Regions from separate parts of the Homo sapiens genome. Here region 1 is linked to region 2. A link means that fine-mapping ties the variant in region 2 to the expression of a gene that starts in the linked region. Tissue or cell type: thyroid. Region 2 holds a variant in brackets; the other region holds the start of a gene. All regions are shown on one strand. Distances are from middle to middle.

Region 1 (2,500 bases), 85 kb after region 2:
TCTGCCACTACCGAAGGGTTTATGGCGATGCCTGCCACGTGGTCTTTCTTTTCATGGTTCACAAGCCACAGGGAAGTGCCTAAGGCACACAAATCTTAAGTATACAGTCTGATGATTTTTCACGCGGGTACACACCTGCATAACCCCCTCCCAGATCAACAAATGTCTACAGAGACATTTTCAGCTCCCAGCAGTCCGGGTGGTGTGCCCCTCCCCATCAGTGGCTATCTAGCCCCAAAAGCTAATCTCGATTCTGACATTCACACCATAGATTAGTTTCGCCTTGTCTAGGATTTCTAAATGGAATCATATGGTGTGTACTCTTTTGCATCTGATTCTACTCGTCAAATTAAAAATCACATAAAATCAGCACACGGGCAGACAATGATAGCGGGAGAAAGGAGGGCGCGGCTGAGTTTCTTTCCCTTCCAAGCAGCCCCCTAGCCTGTTCGTATTTGGGCTCAGTGACTGATCAAAGGGGACAGTGGGAAGAGCTGGATGGACACTGGAGTTTGGAAACACAGGAGTTGACCTTAGAAAACCAGTGGACCGCAGGGGGCAAAAGAGCTGCCCCGCCTGGAGAAGGCATTGTAGGATGGCGGAGGCAGGTGGGTCACTTCTGTTGCTTCGGATGTCCAGAGGGGAGAAGGTTTTATGAGGCCTTAAAACGCTCACACCGGGTTCCTCCCACGCCATGCGCCAGGGGCACCCCATGTGGCCACCGGTTCCTCCCGGGTTCGCTCTGGCCGGGGCTCCCCGGGTGCAGACAACCTCCCAACGACCGCGCATCCGCCCGGCAGGCGCGCCTCCCTACCTGTGCACTGCTGGATGAAGTGCTGGTACTCCGCTCCCTGCTCGCCGGGGACGATGGTGGAGCCGTCATATTTAAAAGTCACCCTTTGGGTTGGGAGAAGAAAAAAACACACACACACATCAGCGCTGGTGGCCGCGCGACGCGGCGCTTGCAGAGGACAATCTAACAGACGCGCTGGCCACGGAGAAGCCCGCGGGGGCCTGGCACGCCGTCCCGGAATAAGGCGAGGAAGACAGCGCGGGAGGCCCGAATCCGTCCCGCCTGGAGGCCGGCTCGGTGCACGAGGCCCCGCGCGAGCCCGGGGAGCGGGGCGTGGAGACGAATGAAAAGTTCCTACCAGATGACGGCCGAGCCGTCGTCGCGCACCAGGTTGTACGCCGCCCGGCAAGCCTCTTTGTCGATCTTGGTGGCCATCGCCGCGGAGCCGCAGCGGGACACTGTCCGGGGCGGCCGAGCGCGCCCCTGGCCGGCGGCGGGGATGGGAGCGCGGCGGGTACGCGCCGAGGGCGCACGGGCTGGCGGCGGTGGCGACGGCTACGCGGCGCCTGCAAGCTGCGAGCGCGGCGGCGGCTTCCACTGCGGACGGAGAGCGCGCGGGGACCCCAGGCCGTGGCCCGCCCCGCCCCCCCGCGCCCATTGGCCGCCCAGGCGGCGGCCCGCCTCTTCATTGGCCGTCGGGCTGCGGGGGCGGAGCGTCTTGATTCTCTGGCGGCCAATCCCAGACCGGAAGGCTTGCGCAACTCCGCGGTGGGGGCTGGAGTAGGGGCTTTGCCTCCTCCCTCTCACTCTCCCTCCTCCCTCCCGCTCTCTTCTCCCCCAACATCCCTCTTCTCTCTCCTTCTCCTTCTCACTTCCCCTCCTCCCCTCCCGACCCCTCCCTGGAAACTCCCACTACCCCAACCCCCTTTCCCACCCCGCCTTCCTCCTCTCCCTCCTCCTTCCTCTTCTTCCCCCACTGCTTGCTTCCCCCACTTCCCTGACCTCTTCCCCCTCCCTTCCCTCCCCCTCTTTCTCCCTTCCCCCTTTATTCTTCTTCCTCTCTCCTCCTCCCTCTTCTTGCCTATCCCAGCCCAAAACTTCTCCATCCTCCCTATTTCCTTCTCCCCAAGCTCTCCTCTTTCCTCCTCCTTGACCCCCTCCCCTGCTGCCCCCGGCTTCGCCTCCCTCTTCTCCACTTACCCTCCTGGCATCTCCTCCCTCCCTGTCCCCTACTCCCTCCTCCTATTCCCCCTCTCCCCCTTCCTCATTCTCCCCACCCCCCTGCCCCTGAGGCTGCAGGGCTGCAGAGCTCCACAGGGGACCTCCACGTGGATGATGTAATGCGTCAAACCCAAGGAGACAGGCTGGCCACTGTCCCTACCCCAGCGTTTGGTTCCATGGATTCTAGGTGGGGAGGAACTGGAAAGAATGAAGCATTTTAAATAGGAGGGGGTAGAAAGTGGACTGCTTCCAAAACGCTGGTGGGCTCGCGTTTACTCTGGATTCTGGTCATTTGCATTCCTATCTTAACCTCTCCCTTTGGGCTCCTCTGAAAGCACGAGCTGACTCATTCTGTCTTCCTCATTCCTTCACTGACTCATTCATTCATTCCCTCATCCAGCCATTCCACAGAGACCAGTTACAGCGTCCAGGTAGGTAAAAAGGCAGGATCCTGAAGACTGGGCTCTTGAATTGCATCCAGTACTG
Region 2 (2,500 bases):
AAAGTGCTGGGATTACAGGTGTGAGCCACACCCAGCTGGAAGGTAGAAACTTTACCCTCCTCCTGATGTGCCCTCCTAATAAACCCTGAGGAGCCGGTAGCTGCCTGAGTGCCTGCACTTGACATGCATGATTGCATTTCATCTCACAGTGCCCCTCAAAGTAGAAATGATGGGCACCATGCGACAGATGAGGAAACAGATGCTCAGAGATCTTGCCCAAGATATCTGTGGCCAATACACAAGTCAGATGCATGGCTTGTCCCAGTTCACTGTGGTGGAGGCAGGTCTGGAAACCAAGTCTGTCTGACAGCACAGCCCTTGTTCTCACCAGTACGTTCTGCTCCCTTTGTCATGAAGCCTGCTGCAGTTTGGGATCGGAGTTGGTTCACTGCGTTTCTAAGCATCATGCCTGCTCATGCACTCATTCATTTGCTCATCCATTCACTCCTTCCAAAGGCTGAGAGACGTGGTATCCTTCCCAGGTGAACAAGTCCCCGGCGCCACCCACACCTCCGCCCCCAGGTCAGTCTTGACACTCCAGATGAACGCACCCTCCAAGCAGACAAGCCAGAACCTGAACAAAGGAACCCAAAAATGTTACCAACTTGCAAACTGATTGCAACTTGAAAATGTATTGCAGCTTGACATTTATTGAAAATGACTGCAATCTTGGCTGCTGGGTTTGCATTTTTGGCAAAATGTCCCTTTAGTCCCCTCTGCTTGCTGAAATCCCTCCATTCTGATTCTCTCATTCACAAGCTCAGCCAGGGCACTCACTGGGAGGGTGAATGTTAACACAAGCAGTGACCTTTCCAGAAAAGAATGACCATTCGCCTCCGCATTCCCGAGAGGAATTCCCCAGGAGCAGCCGAGGAACTTGGTACCATTTCTAAAAGCACATTCTTGGCTGCTTAACATCTCATGTCCATATTTGGGAGTT[C/A]TTGTGTCTTGTTGCATTCATGTGCGGTTCCCTTTCAGGGCAAGGCCTCAGCTCCAGGCTATCTGGGTCGTTTCCTGCCTGCGGCCCAGTAGGAAGAGAGTTAGTGGTGGCTTCTGACAATCTCCATAGGAGGGATGTTAGAGCCAAGGCCAGGGCAGGAAGGAAGCTGCCAGCTAAGCGGCTACTGGAAACTCCCGCTGAGGATGCGGCACCAGGAACACAACCTTATGACTGTCAGAACATCATAGCTGCACATTCATTTGGCAAAATTTAGAAGCGTGTTTATTTTTTTTCCTTATGAAAGTAACATAACCACCTTCCAGAAGAGAGAAGCAAGAAACCTCACACAGATTATGCTGGGAGTCCCGAAGACCACCCTCACATTCATAGATTTGCTAAAAGAATTCATATGGGCTTCGGCATATTCAGGTAGCTGTATGTGTGGCTAAGATTTATTTACAACAGTGCAGTAAGGATACACAATCAGCTCAAAAGGCGAAACCGTAGAGTTGGAGTCTGCAGGAGTCCATTATGAGGCTCTCTCACGCCCTCCCCTCCCCAAGAAGGGTTGCACAGAGCACATTCCGTCCCCATCAACAAAAATGCAGCTGTGTGTCTGCAAGGCTTCTGTCCAAGGAAGCCCATCAGAGACTCAGCACCCCAGAGTTTTTCTAAGGGCTGGTCAGTTGGCACCTTCTTCTTAGCAGGTACCAAATTCCCAGCTCCCGAAGGGAAGCACGTGTTTAGCACGAACCACATTGTTTGTGGTCTAAGCACAGTGAACCACTTTTATCATTTAGGAAACAGCTCAAGTGCCAAGTTCCCAGACACCAGCCAAGAGTCAACCTAGCAAGCAGGTCTTCCGAAAGATAGCAGTCTCAAGCCTGCTATACTAACTTCTGTCTGCACAACCACATATATGCAGCTGGAATACGGCCACCCCTAGCAGTTCTGTGAATCGCCCTCCTTTCTTTCCTTTTTTTAACCTGTGACTATTTATACATCTTAATTATAATCTTGTCACATGAAGTGAAGCAACACAGAATTATACAATTTTATATTTTTTTTCACTTGATATCATAATTTTTTTTTTGAGACAGAGTCTCACTCTGTTGCCCAGGCTGTAGTGCAGTGGTGTAATCTTGGCTGACTACAACCTCTGCCTCCCAGGTTCAAGTGATCCTCCTGCCTCCACCTCCCAAGTAGCTGGGACTACAGGTGCGTGCCACCACGCCTGGCTAATTTTTTTTTATTTTTAGTAGAGATGTGGTTTTGCCATGTTGGCCAGGCTGGTCTCCAACTGACCTCAAGTGAACTGCCCACCTCAGCCTCCCAAAGAGCTGGGATTACAGATGTGAGCCACTGCACCCAGCCTCATAACATAACTTTTAGTGGCTGAAATCATGCACGCATCCCACCAGTATTTACTAAATGAGTGATGTTCTCTTCAGTAGATGTTCTGTGATTTATTACAGTGCATGGTTGTCTCTTTGATGTTCACTCTTTATGCACCTATTGTGCAAGCCTGAAAAACTAGGTGAGCTCTGGTCACTAAAGAGC

Evidence for each region. PIP is the estimated chance that this variant, and not a neighbour inherited with it, causes the effect.
Region 1: COTL1 starts here. The variant in region 2 is fine-mapped to the expression of COTL1 in thyroid (GTEx, PIP above 0.99).

The regions. Positions count from the first base shown.
Region 1 is chr16:84,616,687-84,619,186 of GRCh38, forward strand. It overlaps COTL1 (coactosin like F-actin binding protein 1), which reads right to left and starts at 1,392. Exons shown (of 4, transcript NM_021149.5): 1 at 1,152-1,392; 2 at 815-897. The coding sequence starts at 1,228. RefSeq lists silencers at 1,221-1,270, 1,291-1,650.
Region 2 is chr16:84,531,538-84,534,037 of GRCh38, forward strand. No RefSeq gene overlaps it. Among named protein-coding and RNA genes, the nearest start is that of MEAK7, 28 kb to the left of the region's middle. RefSeq lists silencers at 1-103, 386-680 and enhancers at 217-894, 895-1,573, 1,574-2,250. The variant C/A (reference allele first, on the strand shown) is at 941.